Regions from separate parts of the Homo sapiens genome. Here all the other regions are linked to region 3. The links come from fine-mapping of genetic effects on gene expression. A gene starts in region 3. Each other region holds a variant in brackets. All regions are shown on one strand. Distances are between the middles of the regions. Region 1 has its middle 9.5 kb from the start of CUL1. Region 2 has its middle 9.2 kb from the start of ZNF786. Region 3 holds the start of ZNF425 (zinc finger protein 425). Region 4 overlaps ZNF282 (zinc finger protein 282).

Region 1 (5,647 bases), 440 kb after region 3:
ATTCTTGAACAAGTTTGTATCTACAGGACTGTATTAAATTATGGAGGCTGGCAAGTCCAAAATCTGCAGGGTAGGTTGGCAAGCTGGACACTCACAGAAGAACCAATGTTGAAGTTCAAGTGTGAAGGCCATCAGGGTGGCAGAATTTCTTCTTGCTCAAGAAATGTCAGTCTTTTGCTCTATTAAGGCCTTCCACCAATTTGATGAGGCCCACCCACATATGGATGGCAAGTTGCTTTATTCAAAGTCCACCAATGAGGCCAGGCACGGTGGCTCATGCCTGTAATTAATCCCAGCACTTCGGGAGGCCGAGGTGGGTGGATCCCTTGAGGTCAGGAGTTCGAGAACAGATTGGCCAACATGGTGAAACCCTGTCTCTACAAAAATACAAAAATACAAAAATAGCGAGGCATGGAGGCGCACCTCTGTAATCCCAGCTACTTGGGAGGCTGAGACAAGAGAATCATTTGAACTCGGGAGGCAGAGGTTGCAGTGAGTTGAGATGGTGACATTGCACTCTAGCCTGGATGACAGAGTGAGACTCTGTCTCGAAAAGAAAAAACAAACAAAAATAAATAAAACAAAGTCCACCAATGACTGTTAATCTCATCCAAAAAACACCTTCACAGAAACATCCAGAATAATGTTTGACCAAATATCCAGGCACCACGGTCCGACCAAGTTGACGCATAACATTAAACACCACAAGAACTACGTGGGATACCCCGGATGTAGCAAATGGGATATTCTTTCTTTAAAAAGTAATTTATACTTGGCCGGGCGCAGTGGCTCACACCTGTAATCTCAGCACTTTGGGAGGCTGAGGTGGGCAGATCACTTGAGTCAGGAGTTCGAGACCAGCCTGGGCAACATGGTGAAACCCTATCTCTACTAAAAATACAAAAATTAGCTGGGCGTGGTGGCAGGCACCTGTAATCCCAGCTACTCGGGAGGCTGAGGCAGGAGAATCACTTCAACCTGGGAGGCGGAGGTTACAGTGAGCCAAGATCACACCACTGCACTCCAGCCTGGGTGATGAAGTGAGACTCTGTCTCAAAAAAAAAAAGTAATTTATACTCATTGCCTCAAGTTTCCTACCTCCTAGTGACTCAGCCCATCTCTACACACCTACTAAGTTCAACAGTTCCTCTCCTGCATTTGATGTTCGTTCTACCTGCCCCTCCATCATGAAACCACTCATCCTTTGACTCCCAGACTCTTATGCCCTCATGGCTTTTCTAGCTGATAAATCTTTCTGCATCTGGCTCTCTTCCACCCTCCTCTTAAATGTGGGTTCCTGAAGGTTCCATTCTTGGCCATCTTTTCTTGCTACATCTTCTTCTTGTGTGATCTTGTCAGTTTCACTTGTCATCTATGTCAAGTTATCATCTCCGACTTTATTCAGGGACACTTCTAGGTTTCATGGTGCTTGAAGTTTATATAATTTAACACAGGAGTACTCTTTAAGAAAATGTCTATGCTAGGATGGCTAGCAATAACTTAGTTACACACGGAACTCCCCTAAATGTATCCCATGAAGCCCAACCTATATTGTATCTCAAACTTATCTTGCCCCTAAACAGGTCCCCCAAAATGCCTAGAGGACTCCAGTGCCACCTGACCTGGGGGGACGTGTGAAGAAGATGTTAGGGTGGAAAGAGGTAACAGTCTTGGTCTTAATCACATCAAAAATAACCTACTTTTGAAATTTTTACAAAAAAGAAACATGACAACATGAACATATTGCTAAGGCCCTTGCCAGGTGCTTGGAAGACCCCATGCGGGTGAGGAGAGCTGAAGTTAACGTTTGCTACCTTCAAGAGTAGCGGTCCATCTCTGTCTTCAGCTTGACCTCTCCCACACTTCAGGTCTGATTTTCTAGCTGCTTGCCAGACCTCTCTACTTGAACGTCCCTCATATTTCAAACCATTTGGCCTCAAATAAAGACCATTATTCCTTATTCTACCCCTGACCCATCTCATATCTTTTCCTTTGTTTTTCTGTCTCTTATATTGGCATCACCATCTGCCCAGTTATTCAAGTTAGCAGCCTCAGTTATTTCCTGTTCTGCCCTTTCCCTGCTCCATTTGTTTATTAGATCCCATTGAGTTTGTTCCTGTATTTGCTTTCATTTGGACTGCTGAAAGGGCCTCCTCACTGTCTGTCTGCCTCTGGTCTCCTCCAATTCATCCTCCACACAGCTGTGGAGCTATTTTTCTAAAATATGGTCATGACTTCCTCAAGAAGCAAGACAGC[A/T]TGGGCTCTGGAGCTAGCACCCAGGTTTAAATCTTGGCTCTACTGCTTACTTCCTGTTTGACTTTGGACAAGTTATTTAATCTGTCTATGACTCAGTTTCCTACTTATAAAATGGGAATACTGGCCAGGCGTGGTGGCTCACACCGTAATCCTAGCACTTTGGGAGGCTGAGGCAGGCAGATTGCTTGAGCTCAGAAGTTCGAGACCAGCCTGAGCAACACAGTGAAAACTTGTCTCTACTAAAAATACAAAAAAAACTAGCTGGGCGTGGTGGCAGGCGCCTGTAATGGGAGGCTGAGGCACGAGAATTGTTTGAACCCCGGAGGCAGAGGTTGCAGTAAGCCGAGATCGTGCCACTGCGCTCCAGCTTGGATGACAGAGTGAGACTCTTCTCAAAAAAACAAAACAAGACAAAAAAACAGGGAATAGTTGACACTTCACAGGAGATTTTAACAAATAAATTACAGCATTTCTTGGTGTTGGATATTTGATACATAGAAAACATTAGTATGTTATTATCACTGTTAATATAGCTATCAAAAACTTTTGATGGGACCGGGCACAGTGTCTCACGTGTATAATCCCAGCACTTTGGGAGGCCAACGTGGGAGGATCGCCTGAGGTCAGGTGTTCGAGACCAGCCTGGCTAACATGGTGAAACCCTGTTTCTTCTAAAAATATAACAGTTAGCCGGGTGTGGTGGCACACGCCTGTAATCCCAGCTACTCTGGAGGCTAAGGCAGAAGAATTGCTTGAATCCGGGAGGGAGATGAAGGTTGCAGTGAGCCAAGATCGCGCCACTGCACTCCGGCCTGGGTGACAGAGTGAGACTCTGCCTCAAAAAAGCAAAACAAAACAAAACAAACTTTTGATGGTTTCACGTACTGGAACAAGACATTCAATAATCATCTTCACGCTGAGACCTCAGTCCCTTTTCCCAGTGTCTGTTCTTGCCTCGTCTCTTCCTAGACCTTGTGCTGCAGACACACTTGAAACCAGGCAGATGCTTCCCAGGCCATTTGGGTGCTCCTGGTTTTCCTTTGTTGGAAATGTCCTCTTCCTTTTTCTTTCTGTGGAGAAATCTCAATCATTCCTCAGGTTCCTGATCCAATGTCATCTTCTCTCTGAAGTTTCCTCAGCCTCTTTGCCCTCACTGTATCCTGGTGTTTCTTAATAAACACCAAGCAAAAGACCTCTGACAAACCCCTCCTCCTCCCGAACTTTCTTTTTTCAATTGCCAAAAATGGGTTTTAAGTGTTTGAGTCACAATTCTTGCATGCATGCTCTCATGTAATACTTGTAAAGTATATCTTGGATTATTCCAAGTTTTTATTGGCATAAATCAGAGAGAACATTCTAGTCATGAATGATGAAGTGTGTTTTCCAGGTCATACTACATTCATGCCAGGAACATGGCATAGCCCATCAACACCATTTGTTTATATGATGTATTTTAAAGAACAATTATAGTATTAAGATAATGTACACAGAGAATTTAAGAAATTTCAATGGCTTTAGAGCTTTGTTTTCTTGGTCTGTAGGGTTAGTTGCTTTTGACTTGATATTCACTCTGGGAATGGAAAAATGGAGCTGGCAGGCTGAAATCATCAATTAACAGATAATAACTAGAAAGATATTATACTGCCACTTTATGGGAAAAGGTACTTTTTTGCCAGTTAATTTTTCTATGGGATGCCAAGGGAGGAGACCGCTTTAGAATTTGCCTAATTTCTCCGACCATTTTTAAAGAATAAAGGTATTTTTGTTTGTTTTTTTTTTCTTGAGACAGAGTCTCACTCTGTCACCCAGGCTGGAGTGCAGTGAGGCAATCTCGGCTCACTGCAACCTCCGCCTTCCAATTTAAGCAATTCTCCTGCCTCAGCCTCCCAAGTAGCTGGGACTACAGGTGCGCACTACCACGCCTGGCTAATTTTTGTGTTTTTAGTACAGACGGGGTTTCGCCATGTTGGCCAGGCTGGTCTTGAACTCCTGACCTCAGGTGATCTGCCCATCTTGGCCTCCCAAAGTTCTGGGATTACAGGCATGAGCCATTGCGCCTGATCTTAAAGAATATATGTTTAATTTATAGTTGAAATCTGGATTAATTTACAGTTGAAATCTGGCTAGTTCTGCTGACAGAGTAAGTTCAGAAATCAAACTCACTGAACAATGAGAGCTGTATGTTATTTTTGCTGATAATGTCCCAGAAACTTAGTCAGTGCTATTAACCACAACTCCTCTGGTTTTGGCTCCTCTGAGGACTGCATCAGCCTACAAGTCTGTTTCTGTGACCTTAACAGTTAAACAAGAGAGAAATACCAACATGAAAACAAGAATTTCAAAGATTCCCCTTGCATGATTGGGTAGGAGAGCAGGAGAGACAACGTAGGTGGGAGGCTGGCAACTAAATATTCAAGAGAAAAACTCAAATTTTCCTCCCAGTTGGGAAGCCAATATGTCTTCCTCATTCTTCTTCTTCTTTTTTTTTTTTTTTTGAAATGAAGTCTCACTCTGTCACTGAGGCTGGAGTGCAGTGGTGCAATCTCAGCTCACTGCAACCTCTGCCTCCTGGGTTCAAGCGATTCTCCTGCCTCGGCCTCCCGAGTAGCTGGGATTACAGGTGTGCACCACCACGCCAGGCTAATTTTGATATTTTTAGGAGAGATGGGGTTTCACCATGTTGCCCAGGATGGTCTCGATCTCCTGACCTTGTAATCTGCCTGCCTCGGCCTCCCAAAGTGCTGGGATTACAGGCGTGAGCCATGGCACCCGGCCCCTGATTCTTTTGTCAATGATATTTCCTTTTATTTTTTCCTACCTCTTTCCTTCCAACAGCTCTAACCTTTTACTAAAGGATTAGAAATGGGTAAATATTCAGTAATCTAATCCCTGGTTATTTTAAGACAGCCGACTTAATTGCCTTTGAAAGAAATGCTCCTTGGACAGTGCAAGGGCACTTGTATTTTGGAGGTACCGGCAAGACAACCTGGAAGAAACTGGTAACAGACAGAAATTTACTCGGAGCCACAGACGCTTAAGACACTTAAGTTTTCCTGATAGAATAAGATGAGTCGATGTAAAGAGTGAATATAAAACTCTAATGGTCAAAATAAAGTGATTTTTTTAAATCCCAGGGTACACACATGTTTGAAAAATAGTCAAGCATTTACCGAGATGTGTTTCTTGAGTAAGCACTTCATAAACCACTTGCTAACTGACCTACTTTTTGTTTTGCTTCCCTGTAGTGAGAAAAATAGCTTTTTAGCTTAGACAAGGGAAGGAAGGGTGGCTCTACCTTGCACAGAGCAGGATATAATCCCATTGGATTGGTGCTACAGGTGTGCTTTTTCCAGCTCTGCTGTCAGTCTGAGGAAGACTGTGGGAAGAAGCA
Region 2 (5,647 bases), 27 kb after region 3:
TACTTAAATCACCTAAAAGTCCACCACTGTGAGTAACAGGCAGTGTTATTTATCTAACCCCTCTGCATTTTCAACAGTGTTATGTCAGTTCTCAAAGAACTATACTTAACATTAGGGTCTCTGAGGAAAATACCAAAGGATAAAATACTGTCAGTCCACAGCACCACTATTTTTTTTTTGCCCTGTCGCCTAATCTAACATTATAAGATTTTCCAGGCTATTCTGGCAAACCCTCATCTGTCTCTCAGACTGTCAATCTTTGACATTACTCGTTTTTTTTTTTTCTTGAGATGGAATCTCGCTCTGTCACCAAGGCTGGAGTGCAGGGGCGCCATCTCAGATCACTGCAAACTCCACCTCCTGTGTTCAAGTGATTCTCCTGCCTCAGCCTCCCGAGTAGCAGGGACTACAGGCGTCTGCCACCACTTCTGGCTAATTTTTTGTATTCTTAGTAGAGACGGGGTTTCACCATGTTAGCCAGGATGGTCTCCATCCCCTGACATCCGTGATCCGCCCACCTCGGCCTTCCAAAGTGCTGGGATTACAGGTATGAGCCACCGCACCCAGCCTTTGACATTACTGTTAGGATAACTTACAGCCTTCCTTAGGAAATTTGAGTACCTTCATAAATTTTGTGTGTGTTGCACAAAACATGGTCCCCAGTTACCGAAGTCAGAATCTGCTGGGATCAAAGTCGCTACAAGAATCACAGCGTCGGCCGGGCGCAGTGGCTCACACCTGTAATCCCAGCACTTTGGGAGGCCAAGACGGGCAGATCACGAGGTCAGGAGATCAAGACCATCCTGGCTAACACGGTGAAAACCCGTGTTAAAATACAAAATACAAAAAATTAGCCGGGCGTGGTGGCGGGTGCCTGTAGTTCCAGCTACTCGGGACGCTGAGGCAGGAGAATGGTGTGAATTCGGGAGGCGGAGCTTGCAGTGAGCCGAGATCTCACCACTGCACTCCAGCCTGGAGGACAGAGCGAGACTCTGTCTCAAAAAAAGGAAAAAAGAATCACAGCATCTATACAAAGAGGAAAAAGGTGCCGCCTGTGTTTGGGACAGTCCTGTGGGTAGGGAATAGGCTGCTATTTATGTGGTACACCTCAAAAAACAAAACTAAAGTGCCAGTGATCAGATAAATGAAATGCCAACAGTTTAACAGGTAGATTCAGAACTAAAAATAAAATAATGTGAAAATAAAGACATTTTTAAAAAATGCTTTTCAGAAAGAGTTTTAAAAGATAATGGGTGAGGCACGGTGGCTCATGCCTGTAATCTGAGCACTTTGGGAGGCCAAGGTGAGTGGATCACCTGAGGTCAGGAATTTGAGACCAGCCTGGCCAACATGGCGAAACCCCATCTCTACAAAACTTAGAAAAATTAGCAGGGCATGGTGGTGTGCACCTGTAGTCCCAGCTGCTTGGGGGCTGAGGTGGGAGGATTGCTTGAGCCCAGGTGGTTAAAGCTGCAGTGAGCCATGTTTGCACCACTGCACTCCAGCCTGGGTGACAGAGTGAGACCCTATCTCTAAACAAATGAAAATAATAATAATAATAATGAGTACCCCACAGTACCACATGCTGCAGAAAGAGGTCAAAGAAGAAGTTAAAGGATTATAAATGTCAGTGAGAGATATTACCCTGAGTGGCTGAAGCAAAAGCATGGGGCTGAGTAGAACACAGAAGAGAAGGGGCAGTTCCATGACGTAGTTCAGAAAGCACAGGGCTTAGAGTAAGTCCCACAAAATAAAACAGACCCTCGCTCTGGCCTTGGGCAAGACACTAGAGCTCTGTAAGTTTTACTTTCTCCATTTAATATAATGGTGAGGGGAGGGTACCTTTATGAAAATCAGCCACATCTACAAAAATAAATGCTGTTTTTCAGCTATACTGGTAACACAGGCATTCTCTAGTATGAGTTAGGTGATGGATTGCAGTACATGGAGTGGCCTACAGAATCACTCCCAGTCCACACATGGGGGACTGGCACAGAAACAGCAATAAGGAGTGCTTCTGAGGTCAAACCGAGGCAGGAATTAGGAGAAGAAAGTGACCAAGTGCAGGTAGAGAATGGGGAGGAGCTGAGAACAAGGAGGAGGGGTAGCTTTAAGAAAGGAGAGACTAGGCGCCATGGCTCATGCCTGTAATCCCAGCACTTTGGGAGGCTGAGGCGGGCGGATCACGAGGTCAAGAGATGGAGCCCATCCTGGCCAATATGGTGAAACCCCGTCTCTACCAAAAATACAAAAATTTGCTGGGCTGGTGGCACGCGCCTGTAGTCCCAGTTACTCAGGAGGCTGAGGCAGGAGAATCGCTTGAACTCGGGAGGCAAGGGTGGCAGTGAGCTGAGATCGTGCCACTGCACTCTAGCCTGGTGACAGAGGGAGACTCTCAAAAAAAAAAAAAAAGAAAGAAAGGAGAAAGGGCAGGGCGCGGTGGCTCACGCCTGTAATCC[C/T]GGCACTTTGGGAGGTCGAGGCAGGTGGATCACCTGAGGTCAGGAATTTGAGACCAGCCTGGCCAACATGGTAAAACCCTGTCTCTAGTAAAAATACAAAAAATTAGCTGGGCGTGGTGGCAGGCACCTGTAATCCCAGCTACTCGGGGGGCTGAGGCAGGAGAATGCTTGAACCCAGGAGGCGGAGGTTGCAGTGAGCCGAGATCGCGCCATTGCACTCCAGCCAGGGCAGCAAGAGCGAAACTGCGTCTCAAAGAAAAACAAACAAAAAACAAGAAAGGAGAAAGGAACTGTGGTAAGCATTACCTGGAACTTCCCAGATGCTCATGCTTATCAGGAGCCAAGTAGAAGTTTCTATCTAAGCTGTCTTTGCCCCCAAATCTGGTCACCTAAGTAAGGGAGTATAAATTGTTTCATGACCAGTACTCAGATTCTGGAAATAAAGGCCAAGTTAATAATGGACACTATAATGTGAGGATGAACATGAGATTATGAATGTGAAATACATAGTGTCTAGTCAAGAGTAGGCATTCAGGGCTCGGCACGGTGGCTCATGCCTGTAATCCCAGCACGTTGGGAGGCCGAGATGGGTGGTTCACTTGAGGGCAGAAGGTCGAGAGCAGCCTGGCCAACATGGGAAAACCCTGTCTCTACTACAAATACAAAAATTATCCGGGCGTGATTGCATGCACCCATAGCCCCAGCTACTCGAGATGCTAAAATGGGAGAATCACTTGAACCCAGGACGGAGGTCACAGTGAGCTGAGATCATGCCACTGCACTCTAGCCTGGGTGACAGAGCAAGATCCTGTCTCAAAAAAAAAAGAGTAGGCATTCAGTAAGATGTAACCCCATGTTATGAACGGAATCATGTCCCCTCCCCTTTCCAAATTCACAGGTTGAATCCCTAACCCCCAGTGTGACTGTAAGATCAACATGACACCTTTACTAGTCATAAAACTAACACAGGAGAGCCCAGCGTGCACATGACCTGAGCAAAGTGGGTGAGGAGGCAGAGGCTGCAAGTGCTGTGCTCACGGAGCTCCCCCTCAGTGGAGAGGAACACCAAGAATGAGGGAGAAGCGCGCCCACCTCCAAAACCAGCAGCAAGCTATGGCTGTTTGTGTGCGTGACTATTTGGCTGTCCCTAGCTGCATCTGGTACAGCCATCTCTTCTGTTACCACATATGTGCTAATGACTTTCAAATCTATAAATCCATATTTTCAACTTGTGCCATGAACATCTCAAACACAAAATGCCCCAAGTAAGACTTGTCACCTGTATCAACCCTCACTCTACCCCCGTTGTTGTTGTTGTTGTTATTGTTGTTTGAGACGGAGTCTCGCTCTGTCGCCCAGGCTGGAGTGCAGTGGCGTCATCTCGGCTCACTGCAAGCTCTGCCTCCCGAATTCACGCCATTCTCCTGCCTCAGCCTCCCGAGTAGCTGGGACTACAGGCACCCGCCACCACGCCTGGCTAATTTTTTTGTGTTTTTAGTAGAGACGGGGTTTCACCGTGTTAGCCAGGATGGTCTCGATCTCCTGACCTCGTGATCTGCCCATCTCGGCCTCCCAAAGTGCTGGGATTACAGGCGTGAGCCACCACGCCCGGCCGTTTTTTTTTTTTTGTTTTGTTTTGTTTTGTTTTGAGACAGAGTCTCGTGCTGTCACCCAGGCTGGAGTGCAGTGGCGCGATATCGGCTCACTGCAAGCTCTGCCTCCCAGGTTCAAGCAATTCTCCTGCCTCAGTCTCCCGAGTAGCTGAGACTACAGGCGCCCGCCACCACGCCCAGCTTATTTTTTTTTTATTTTTTATTTTTTTGGTATTTTTAGTAGAGGCAGGGTTTCACCATGTCAGGCTCGTCTCGAACTCCTGACCTCAAATGATCCGCCTGCCTCAGCCTCCCAAAGTGCTGGGATTATAGGCATGAGCCACTGTGCCCGGCCTCTACCCTTCTTTGTTAGACTGTTCTGTATTTCCTACCTCTGTATACTAAATCTACCTCATCTCCAAAGTTATAAATCTGATGATGCACCTAGGTTTTCTTACACCCAATCTAGCATCTAGCTCCTGATTCTTCCCAAACAAGATCCTTTCTCGCTATCTCTGTTGTTACTACTTGAAGCTCACTTTATTTATTTATTTATTTATTTAATAGTGTTTTCCTTGACAGGTTTCCTTGCTTCTGGCTTTTTTCCTCCAGTACATTTATCATCCATCTGCCAGATGGGTTCTTCTAAAATGCAATTCTAACATTGGTCCCTTCAAGAAATACTTAGAAGTTTCCCATTTTGGCCGGGCGCGGTGGCTCATGCCTGTAATCCCAGCACTTTGGGAGGCCGAGACGGGCGGATCACTCGAGGTCAGGAGTTCAAGAGCAGTCTGGCCAACGTGGTGAAACCCCGTCTCTACTAAAAATACAAAAATTAGCCAGGCATGGTGGCACATGCCTGTAGTCCCAGCTACTTGGGAGGCTGAGGTGGGAGAATTGCTTCAACCCGGGAGGTGGAGGTTGCAGTCAGCTGAGATCACGCCATTGCACTCCACCCTGGGCAACAGAGCAAGACTGTCTCAAAAAAAAAAAGAAGAAGTTTCCCATTTTATTATAAATGCATTCTTTAATAAGACCTAGAAAAGGCCGGGCACGGTGGCTCACGCCTGTAATCCCAGCACTCTGGGAGGCCGAGATGGGCAGATCACGAGGTCAGGAGATTGAGACCATCCTGGCTAACACGGTGAAACCCCGTCTCTACTAAAAATACAAAAAATTAGCCGGGCGAGGTGGCGGGACCTAGAAGAACCTGTGAGCTGACCCTGACCTGCCGCTTCAGTTTGACCTTCACAATGTGAGCCTCAGCCTCATCGCACAGCATGTATCTTTCTCAAGTGCATTATATTCTCTCATGACTCTCGTCTGTCTGGAATGCCTTCCCTCCCTCACATCACCTCCCTCACATTCCATGATTCAGTCCAGAGAAAAGGAATGTTTTAGCTATATGCTTGTCTCTTCTCCCAGCACCTCTAAATTCCTTCCTCTAAAGCACTCCCCACTGAAACTCTGTCTGCTTCCCCTCATAGCCTGAACCCCTGGAGGGCATCTGTATGCTCTTGTTTTTGCATTTTCTCCACTTAACACACACCTGACATAGAAGACATTCTAGGGCTAAGCGTGGTGGCACACCCAGTT
Region 3 (5,647 bases):
ATGATATGGATACCAACTAAATTGTGACCTTTTTTCCTTTCTTGTCCAAATTTCTAACTAAGGGACATAGGAAATCATGCCCTACAAACTATAAAAATCTCACCAGAAGGGTTTTATTTAACCCTATATAACCGCTTAGTTTCCAACCTGACTCTGGCATAACATTGCATGACAAAGAAGGAAATCAAAATATTTTATCCCCAAATATGCTTCTTTGCAGTATATATTATATATTTATATGAAAATATAGGGCCAGGCACAGTGGCTCATGCCTGTAATCCCAGCACTTTGGGAGGCCGAGGTAGGTGGATCACGAGGTCAAGAGTTGAAGACTAGCCTGGCCAACATGGTGAAACCCCATCTCTACTAAGAATACAAAAATTAGCCCAATGTGGTGGCACATACCTGTAATCCCAACTACTTGGGAGGCTGAGGCAGGAGAATCGCTTGAACCTGGGAGGCGGAGGTTGCAGTGAGCCAAGATCACACCACTCTACTCCAGCCTAGGCAACAGAGCAAGACTACGTCTGGAAAAAACCCAACAAACAAACAATATATATATATATATAATTTTATTTTATTTTATTTTATTTTTTTGAGACAGAGTCTCCCTCTGTCTTCCTCTCTCACCCAGGCTGTAGTGTCAGCACAATCTGTGCTCACTGCAACCTTCGCCTCCCAGGCTCAAGTAATCCTCCCACCTCTGCCTCCCAAATAGCTGAGATTAACGTCTTTGCCACTGTGCTGACAAAATCTTGTATTTTCTGTAGAGATGGGGTTTCGCCATGTTGCCCAGGCTGGTCTTCAACTCCTGTGCTCAGGCAATCCTACTGCCTCAGCCTCCCAAAGTGCTGGGATTACAGACGTGAGCTACTGCGCCCGGCCAGAGAATCTAGCACCTTTTAAAGGTTTAAATAGGAAATTTTTGCCATCTAAAGACAGTCACTATGAGACATCCTAAGAATCTTGGTCTCCACAACCCCTTATCTTAACCCAGACACTCCTTTCTATGAACCTGGTCTTCAGATAGCCAATTGCCAATCAGAAAATCGCTGAATCCGCCTGTGACCTGTAAGCACCGCTTGGAGTTGTCCCGCCTTTCCTGACAGAACCAGTGTACACTTTACATGTATTGACTGATGTCTTAAGTCTTCCCAAAACGTGTAAAATCAAGCTGTAACCCAACCACCTTGGATACATGTTCTTAGGACCTCTTCAGACAGTACCTTGGCCTTCCTCACTCATATTTGGCTCAGAATAAACTTCTAAATATTTTACAGTTTGACTCTTCGTAAACATGGATGAATCACAAAAGCATTACGCTTTTGAGGAGCCAGTCACAAAAGGTTATATCATACTGTATGATTCCATTTATATACCATTTCTAAAAAGAGAAAACTAGGTTTCAAGAGCAGATCAGTCCTTGCCAAGGATCCAGGTGTCGGAGGGAGTGACCATAAAGCAAATGAAGCACAGAAGAGAATGGCAGCACAAGGAGTTTCAGGGTGGGACAGGGCTCTTCCGTATCCTGGTTACAGTGGTTACTACACGTATACATACATATGTGAAAATTCATAGAACTTTACACCCAAAGAAACGTTAGTTTTTTTGTTTGTTTGTTTTTGGTTTTTTTGAGATGGAGTCTCCCTCTGTCGCCCAGGCTGGAGTGCAGTGGCGCGATCTCGGCTCACTGCAAGCTCCGCCTCCCGGGTTCACGCCACTCTCCCGACTCAGCCTCCCTAGGAGCTGGGACTACAGGCGCCCGCCACAACGCTCGGCTATTTTTTTTTTTTTTTTTTTTGTATTTTTAGTAGAGACGGGGTTTCGCCGTTAGCCAGGATGGTCTCGCTCTCCTGACCTCGTGATCCGCCCGCCTCCGCCTCCCAAAGTGCTGGGATTACAGGCGTGAGGCACCGCGCCCATCCGAAACGTTAGTTTTAATGTAAGGTTTTTTTTTTTTAACCCTTTAATCAGTAAGGTGCATCTACATTTCACGATTCCGGGACAAATACAGATGTGCACACGCTCCTCAGCCTATGCAGGGACTACTTTCTCATGGACATCCTTTCTAACTACACACTTTTCATTTGTTACTTTAGCCTGACACCTAAAACATGACTAGGACAGAATGCGAGGTTGATTTTCTGGGGACAGTCGCCACCCCCTTCCTTGCCCTCTCTCTCCTTTCTGTCTCTCCCTGGTTTCCCCTTCTGCGTCTTCCCACCTCTCCCGTTTTTGCGTCTTCGTGTTTCTCACGCCCTGTGTCATGGCCTCCTCCGTCTTCTCCCGCTCTGTCACAGTCTCCCGCCGGGGGCTAGGGGTGCCCGGCCCGCATCCCTGGGCGACCCTGAGTCCCCGCAGGCGGCCCCGAGGCCGGGGTGGCTTCCGCATGGGGTCTCTGCCCGAGGCCTTTCTCTGCCAAGGAGGGAGTGTGGACGCTCGGGGAGCCCAGAAGGGCGCTGCACCCACGGGGACCGGACGTGGTGGGCGGACCCCTCCTCCGCGTCCCCGACGGGACATGCCCGGGGCCCACACGGCCTCCGCGCCCCCGGCGGGACGGACACCCCGGGCCACCGCGCGCCCCCCACCACCTACCCGGCCTCGCTGGATTCCCGGGACCCCCTCACAAACGAAACCCTCGAGCTCATCCCTGACTTGGGGGCAGCTTTGGAAGGAACAGCACCGGACTCTCACCCTCTCGCTGCCTCTCAGTCCGGGTTTCTGTGGAGCGCGTCTCCCAGTCGCTGTCCCTACTCTCTCCCTGTTCCTGCTCTCTCCATGTTCACCTGCCCCTCCGTTTCCCCTCCCGTCAGCTCCCTCATCTCGTCTTCGACCGCATCCCTCGCATGCAGATCCGGGAGTCCAAGGGTCCCTCAAAGACCGGCGTGCTGCGGCCCGCACGGAGGGTGCCCGGGCCCCTCCTCTGAGGACCGACTCCCTCTGGCGGCGCCGCTCCTCCCGCCCGCAGGGGGCGCTATGGGGCGGAGCGGCTTCCGCTTCCGAGCGCCGAGTCCCAGCATGCACCGCGCCCGGCCGGCTCTGCCTTTGGGGGCCAGCAGGGCTGTACCTGGGAGTTGGGTTGGGGCGGAGCGGAGGGGAGGCCGTGCCAGGCAGGGCCGGTTCGTGCGGAACCGCCATGGCCGAGCCGGCTTCGGTAAGAAGGGCCGGTGGAGGATGCAGGCTCTGTCGAAACTCGGGTCCCTGTCGCAGCTGGATTGGGGTCCGCGTCCAGGGAGTGGGGCGGCCGGGGCCTGGGCCTGGGGGTTGGCAGTGGCCCACGGACTGAGCTCCGGGCTGGGCTGGAGAAGGTGCAGTCTTGCTGCGTGTGCTGTTCTGGAATTGACCTGGGGAAAAGCTGGTCTGGCCGGGCTTGGCCGCGCGCGTCTGTGGCCCCGGCCACTCGGAAGGCTGAGGCGGGAGCAGCGCTTGAGCCCGGGAGCTCTGCGCTGTATATGCGCTAGGTCCGTCGCGCGGTGCCTCTGAGTTCTGCATCTGTGTGGTGACCTCTCGGGAGCGGGGACCACCAGGTTCCCCAGGGAGGGGGAACCGGCCCAGCTCGGAAACCGAGCAGGGCAAAACCCCAGTGCTGATCGTTAGTGGGATCGCGCCTGTGAATAGCCACTGCCCTCCAGCCTGGGCAACAGCCAGACCCCGTCTGTTTAATACATAAATAAAAGTTGGTTTGGGAGAAAGAATCCGGGTGGGAAAGATCTGTTTCTCGGCCTGTTGTAGGCTCAGATCAACAACGCTGTCCCTGCCTTCAGTGTCGGGGCTCTGAACCTCGGGGTCTCTCTGGGGCCCGTGCTCTCCTGCTGAAGGTAGTTTCAGAGAAGCACATCAGTGTTAAGCAGATGAGAAAAAGGAGAAGGAAAGCTGGAACTGAGAGAAATTGGAGACCGCTCCCTCTAGGAAAGGACAGAAAACTTAAAATGAATTGGGTGGTTAGCGTAAATCGAATTTACCGTAAATGCTGTAGTATTGTAATGTAGTATTGAAAATTTGAGCACCGGTTTTAGAGTTTGAAAGGCGTATCCTGAGGCTTAATCCAAGAAACCCTGTTACATTCAGTTAAGTATAACTTGCTTAAGTGTGCAAGTTTTTCTTGTGCCCCCAATGAAATTTTATAATCTTAGGAATGTAATGCTCCTTATTTGCATTTGATTCTTCCCTTTTGCTTCCCACTCCTTTTCCCCACCCTCCTTTGGCAGGTACAGATTCTTTTCTGATTTCTCCAAGCTTTGTTTCTACAGCCAGGCTTTCTTTTTTTCTCTCCTCTTTAAGTGATTGGGAATCTCCTGGAATATTCCTCTCTGTTCTGGGAAAGTTTGTGGTAGCTCTTCTTTGTACATTGAATTTATAGAAAATGTGGTAACAGTTTATTGGCTAATGTATTATTTGGGATAGGCAAGGAAAAATCGTTTTCTTGATTTTCCTTTCCACTGTAGCAGTTTAATGCTAATTGTAAATGTGGTCATAAATGGGAATTTTATAGGTGGAAAACACATGGGTGGCCGGGCGTGGTGGCTCACGCCAGTAATCCCAGCACTTTGGGAGGCTGAGGCGGGCGGATCACCTGAGGTCGGGAGTTCGAGACCAGCCTGACCAACATGGAGAAAGCCCGTCTCTACCAAAAATACAAAATTAGCCTGGCATGGTGGTGCATGCCTGTAATCTCAGCTACTGGGGAGGCTGAGGCAAGAGAATCGCTTGAACCCAGGAGGCAGAGGTTGAAGTGAGCCGAGATCGTGCCATTGCACTCCAGCCTGGGCAACAAGAGCGAAACTCCGTCTCAAAAACAAAACCAACAACAACAACAACAACAAAAAAATATGGGTGAGGTACAATAAAACTGTAGAGGAATTTGGTTGAAATCACATTGTAAAAATAACAAGGCCATCCGGACGTGGTGGCTTACGCCTGTAATCCCAGCACTTTGGGTGGCCAAGACGGGCGGATCATGAGGTCAGGAGATCGAGACCATCCTGGCTAACACGGTGAAACTCCCTCTCTACTAAAATTACAAAAAATTAGCCGGGCGTGGTGGCGGGGGCCTGTAGTCCCAGCTACTTGGGAGGCTGAGGCAGGAGAACGGCGTGAACCCGGAAGGTGGAGCTTGCAGTGAGCCAAGATCACGCCACTGCACTCCAGCCTGGGCGACAGAGGGGACTCCATCTCAAAAATAAATAAATAAATAGCAAGGCCAGGCCAGGCGTGGTAGCTCAGGCCTGTAATCCCAGCACTTTGGGAGGCCGAGCCGGGCGGATCACGAGGTCAGGAGATCAAGACCATCCTGGCTAACACGGTGAAACCCCGTCTCTACTAAAAAGACAAAAAATTAGCCGGGTGTGGTGGTGGGCGCCTGTAGTCCCAGCTACTCGGGAGGCTGAGTCAGGAGAATGGCGTGAACCCGGGAGGCGGAGCTTGCAGTGAGCCGAGATGGCATCACTGCTCTCCAGTCTGGGCGAAAGAGCGAGACTCCGTCTCAAAAAGGAAAAAAAAAAAAAAAAAGAAAAAGCAAGTCCGGGCGCAGTGGCTCACGCCTGTAATCCTAGCACTTTGGGAGGCCGAGGCGGGCGGATCAACTGAGGTCAGGAGTTCCAGACCAGCCTGGCCAACATGGCGAAACCCGGTCTCTACTAAAAATAGA
Region 4 (5,647 bases), 90 kb before region 3:
TTGACATGCTGGGAGGGTGACACATCCTGACTCCACAGGGAGGGAACAATGGAAATTTCAGGCTTAGGACCATCCCAGACCTAGCCTTATGGATCTCCTTTTGGCTAGCTCTGATTTGAATCCTTTTGCTGTGATAAAACTGTAATGATATATATAGCACTTTCCTGAGTTCTATGAGTCATTCTAGCAAATTATGACGGGGTGATGGGAAGCCCAGAATTTGTAGCCAGCTGGTCAGAAGTGAGGGTGGCCTAGAACCCCCAAATTTGCAGCTGGTGTCTGAAGAGAGAACGGTCCTGTGGAGGCATGAGCCCTCAACCTGTGAGGTTTGGCCAATTACAGGTCGCTGATGTTGGAAGTCACTGCAACCTGTAACTCCCAAATCAGTCTATCCCCAAGCTCTCTCTTGAACTTCAGACTCCTATATTCACCTACTTGATCTGCTACTTGAGTGTCACCTCAAATTTTAATAGGTCCAAACTAGAACTCTTGACTCCAAACTAGAACCAGCAACACAGGTTCTTTTCCAGGGCTTGGCACTTCAGCAAACAGTACTACCATTCACCCACTTCTGTAGGACCCAGACCCAGGAGTCAGTCTTGATTCCACAGCCCCCACAGGCAACCCATGAGTGACACTCTCAAAGTGCATCTGAATCTGTCCTTTCTCTCCCTGTGCACTGCTGCTACCCCAGCTCTGACCACCAGCATCTCTCCACTTGGTCTGCATCAAATGCATGAGCCTCAGACATGGCTCCGCACCCCCCGCCAATCCACTCCTGAAATCCTATAAAAACGTAAACCAGATCATGTCCGATTTCATACCCTTTATTAGTCTCTCTCTCTCTCTTTTTTTTTTTTTTTTCTGAGACAGGGTCTCGCTTTGTTACCCAGGCTGGAGTGCAGTGGCATGATCTCACTGCAACTTTCACCTCCTGGGTTCAAGGGATTCTCATGCCTCAGCCTCCCGAGCAGCTGGGATTACAGGTGCCCGCCATGACACCCGGCCTAGTCTCCTTTCTTGTAAGAATAAAATCCAAACTCTAACTTGGCCCATAGGTCATACATGCTCAGGTGCCTCAGTCTACGGCTCCATCCTCCTCCCCAAAGCCTCCATGGCCCTGCCTTCACTTCCCTCTTCTTGGTCTTCTCTTCCCCCTGCAACCCCACGGCCGGCTCCTTCCCACTGCCAAGGGCACACTCAGTCAGGCACCGCTTCCCCTCGGAGGCCTTTCCTGACCACTCTGTCTTTGCTCTGCCTCATGTCCACACTCCTTCCTGTTCTCCCTGCCATTGTTCTCAGAGCATTGCTGCATCCTGGCTTTACCTTGCCTGCTTGCTGGCCTGCTTATTCATCCTCTTCCCACAAAAGAAAAGGTCTTTCTTCACTCCCAATTTTTTTTTTTGAGACAGAGCCTTACTCTGCCACCCAGGCTGTAGTGCAGGGGCGCAATCTTGGCTCACTGCAACCTCCGCCTCCCGGATTCAAGCAATTCTCCTGCCTTAGCCTCCCAAGTAGCTGGAGTTACAGGTGCCCACCACCACTCCTGGCTAGTTGTTTTTTGTTTGTTTGTTTGTTTGTTTTTTGTATTTTTAGTAGAGACGGAGTTTCACCATGTTGGCCAGGCTGGTCTGGAACTCCTGACCTCAGGTGATCCAACTGCCTTGGCCTCCCAAAGTGCCGGGATTACAGGCCTGAGCTACCACACCTGGCCCTTCACTGCTTATTCTAAGTGCTTACAATACTGTGTAACACATAGCAGGCATTAAGTAAATACCTGCTAAAAAAAATATAAACTATGAAAGGTTGGAACCACTGTTTTAACCCAATGTAGTGAATAATGTGGGAATTTCAAGAGGGTGCTTTCACGTCATATTCTGTGGGTGTTGGCACCTGGGAATGGTGGCCCAGCTTCAGGATCTTTACCACCTCTCACTCCGGAAGCACCTTTTAGCCACTGCACTCCAGAGTCCTAGCTACGCTTCCTGCTTCAGTGGAGGCACTGATGTACATTAACTTTGGGCAAACTGAATCTTCTTCTTGTCTTACACTAACATGCTGAGAGCGAGACTCAGTATACACTCATTAATAAATAAATTCAGGAGTCCCTTTTACAAGAATGTAATATCCAATTGGGTTGAGGTCTGCCTTTGAGTCAAACGGATACCAGTTATTTCCCTCTTACATATCCCAGGGCTGGAGAAGGAAGTTGGCAAGGACAGGTATCCCGTGTCTGCACTGTGTTCTCTACCCTGACTCTTCTCCCCTCCATCCCCTTTCCAGAAGACTCTTCCACATAATAGCATGGCTACCATCTGGCTGTCCCTGGCAACCACAATACTAGGTTGGTTTTAAACATCAAAGAAACCACAGATGACAGGCCAGTGTCAAATTCCAACACTGATAAATAGGAAGCAGGCTCACTTTGGGAGAAAGAACAGAGGTTCTGATAAGAGGCTGTCGTGACTTGGCAGGCAAGAGAACCATTTCCAGATACTCCTATCTCCTAAATTCTGTGCATTTCCTCCCAAATGCTAGGGTTCAAAGGTCCTTCAAATATAAAATAACGGGCTGGGCCTGGTGGCTCCTGCCTGTAATCCCAGAGCTTTGGGAGGCCCAGGTGGGAGGATTGCTTGAGGCCAGAAGTTCAGACCAGCGTGGGTAATATAGCAAGACCCTATCTCTACAAAACATTTTAAAAAATTACTGAGGCACAGTGGTGCATGCCTGTAGTCCCAGCTATTTGGGAGGCTGAGGCAGGAGCATCACTTGAACCTAGGAGATGGAGGCTGCAGTGAGCCAGGATCACACCACTGCACTCCAGCCTGAGCGGCAGAGTGAGACCCTGTCTTTAAACAAACAAAAAAAAGATAAAACAACATGAGGCAAATCATTCTATGATATCCAAACTTAAGTAGGAAAATGGTGGGGTCCTTTGCAAATCCTTGCAAGTTCTCTATGGGCCTTCCTAGACTGCTTTCCACACAGCACAAGTCCCCAAGAACAGGCTCCTCTAGGCCCACATGC[T/G]CCTAGCCAACTGGGAAGAATCAGAAGACAGCATTGAGGGATAAGGAAGGGTTTGGGCAGAATTTCCTGGCCCCAGGTCAGATGCACTAGTTCCTATGCCTTCGGGCCAGGGCTAGCAATGGTAGCCTACCAGCTGTGGAGGAAGAGATGGAGTTGGCTTTCTTCCGGTGCTCACCACCAGTTTCCTGGCTTCCCCCATCTCATCCCACCAAGCCAGCAGTTACAAAGAGGACCGCTTTCAATTCTACTTGAAATAAGGACATACATTGTTCCTATCTCGTTCCTGCCAATTCCTCCAGGCCCACACTGGCTCTTCTAGAACTAAGTTGTCTTATAGAGAGTGTGATCCGCTTGCCTGAGTTTGAAATGGCTGTTCAGAACCAGAAACAACCCATGTCCTCCGCTCTTACGTGAAGTTTAAGCTCCTTCAAGATGTCAGCACTGGGCACTATGGCTCATGCCTGTAATCCCAGCACTTTGAGAGGCCAAGGTGGGCAGATCACCTGAGGTCAGGAGTTCGAGACCAGCCTGGCCAACATGGTGCAACCTCGTCTCTACTAAAAATTCAAAAATTAGCCAGGCATGGTGGCACACACCTGTAATCCCAGCTACTCGGGAGGCTGAGGTGGAAGAATTGCTGGAACCCAGAAGGCGGAGGTTGTGGTAAGCCTAGATCGCACCACTGCGCTCCAGCCTGGGCGGCAGAGTGAGACTCTGTCTCAAAAAAAAAAAAAAAAAAAAAAAAATGTCAGGAAATATGGACAGGGAACACACATGCAGCTATTCTGTTAAGCCTTTGACCAGCCAGAAGACACTAGGTCAGCCATGTTGAGGGCAAGGGGATGGTACTGGGTTTTAGCGAGGAATATTAGCCTGAGCTAAGAATGTTCAACAATCCATAAACATATGCCTAGGGTCATAGGTCAATAAGGGAGCTTCAGAAAGACCCAAGAGACCCAAGTCTGGTGAGACATTTGGTTCCATACCTGTTGGGAAAACAATCCTCCCTTTCTCTTTGAGCTTCAGTGTGTTCATCAGTGACTCCGGGATGGTAGCTCAGGGATGCCTGGGGTACTTCTAGTGTTTTTTGTTTTTTCTTTCAGGTTTTTTTGAGACAGGATCTCGCTCTCGCCCAGGCTGGAGTGCAGTGGTGCAAGCATGGCTCATTGCAGCCATGACCTCCCAGGCTCAAGCGATCCTCTCACCTCAGCCTCCAGAGTAGCTGGGACCACAGGCATAAGTCACCACGCCTGGCTAATTTGTTAATTTTTTTGTAGACCCTGTGGGTCTCACTATGTTACCCAGGCTAGTTTCAAACTCCTGAGCTCAAGAGATCCTTCCACCTCAGCCTCCCAAAGTGCTGGGATCATGGGTGTGAGCCACCGTGTGCAGCCTGGCTAGTGTCTTCCAGCATGTGAGCCACCTGCTGCTGTCAACTGCCTCGGGCACACTGGCTCAGCAATCTCCCGGCCCCTCTCCCTTCCTCCCCTCCCTGCCATAAAGGGTTAAATTGTGCCTTCCCCCCTCCCCACCAAATATGTTGAAGTCCTAACCCCCAGGACTTCAGAATGTGACCTTATTTGGAAACGGGGTCATTGCAGATGTAGTTAGTTAAGATGAGGTCATACTAGAGTAGGGAGGCCCTGATCCAATATGACTGGTGTCTTTATAAGATGGCATGTGAGGACAGACACAAGGGAACACCATGTGACAACAGAGGCTTGCAGCAACGCATCTACAAGCCAAGGAGTGCCAGAGGTTCCTGGCACCCAGCAGAAGCTGGGAGAGGCGAGGGAGGAATCCCATACAGACTTCAGAGGAAGTCTGGAGCAAGGCCCAGCCCACCCCTTGATTTTGGACTTTCAACCTGTGGAACTGTGAGAGAATAAATTTCTATTGTTGAAGCTGCCCAGCCTGTGGTACCCTGTTATGACAGTCCTGGGGAGCTAATACAATATCACACTCCAAAAAGAATGGGAGTGCTTTGGTGCAGAACTTTGAAACGCTGCCATCAACAGAACATCACCCTACGAGGGGTGAGCTGAGAAGAGGACCAGCCTTCGTCCACGCCTCAGCTGTACAGCTCCAGAGAAGAAACCCCAGGGTCTAGGTGGGGACGTTACTCACTAGGGCCAGAGTCTAATCCAAGCTCTCCGTCCATTGAGTCGCGTGGTCCCCATGGGTATGGCTGCTCCTCCTGCTTGATCCATGACAAAATGTCATGTGCTGAGATGAGAGACTCTGTTGTCATGGAAAGAAGGCAGTCTTAGATTTTGTTCAGTTCTACTCGGCCTCCCATCAAAGGTTTGAAAACCATCCCATGCGGTGGCTGCAACCTGCAGGGCATGTTTTGGTATCGGTGTTGCATTTCCAGGCCATCCTCCTTACCCTCATAAGCCCCTTCCTAAATGGACTCTCACTGCTCGATGCATTTCAAGTTGGCCAGAAGGAGGCTTAGCCCAAGGTCTGTGCAGTGGCAGGGCCGGGATTAAAACCCAGATCTCCCAGCTCTGCCACTTAGCCCCAGAGGAACCCATGGGGCCAGGACAGGCCAGAAGAAAGCCCCAGATAACGGCCCTCAGGGCCATGGCTAACAGGTATGATTTAGAAACCAGCGATG

Evidence for each region. PIP is the estimated chance that this variant, and not a neighbour inherited with it, causes the effect.
Region 1: its variant is the best candidate, but not a certain one, in a credible set for the expression of ZNF425 in prefrontal cortex (BrainSeq, PIP 0.79).
Region 2: its variant is the best candidate, but not a certain one, in a credible set for the expression of ZNF425 in nasal epithelium (TOPMed, PIP 0.53).
Region 4: its variant is the best candidate, but not a certain one, in a credible set for the expression of ZNF425 in lung (TOPMed, PIP 0.55).

The regions. Positions count from the first base shown.
Region 1 is chr7:148,686,587-148,692,233 of GRCh38, reverse strand. No RefSeq gene overlaps it. Among named protein-coding and RNA genes, the nearest start is that of CUL1, 9.5 kb to the left of the region's middle. RefSeq lists a silencer at 927-1,153. The variant A/T (reference allele first, on the strand shown) is at 2,257.
Region 2 is chr7:149,097,105-149,102,751 of GRCh38, reverse strand. No RefSeq gene overlaps it. Among named protein-coding and RNA genes, the nearest start is that of ZNF786, 9.2 kb to the right of the region's middle. The variant C/T (reference allele first, on the strand shown) is at 2,460.
Region 3 is chr7:149,123,703-149,129,349 of GRCh38, reverse strand. ZNF425 (zinc finger protein 425) reads left to right here and starts at 3,026. Exons shown (of 4, transcript NM_001001661.3): 1 at 3,026-3,154. The coding sequence starts at 3,137. It also overlaps the pseudogene RN7SL521P and a transcript of ZNF398 not described here. RefSeq lists enhancers at 2,047-2,096, 2,760-3,311, 3,312-3,863, 4,111-4,611, 4,612-5,112 and silencers at 2,257-2,696, 3,428-3,601.
Region 4 is chr7:149,213,322-149,218,968 of GRCh38, reverse strand. ZNF282 (zinc finger protein 282) reads right to left here. Exons shown (of 8, transcript NM_003575.4): 7 at 5,155-5,268. Among named protein-coding and RNA genes, the nearest start is that of ZNF282, 21 kb to the right of the region's middle. The variant T/G (reference allele first, on the strand shown) is at 3,028.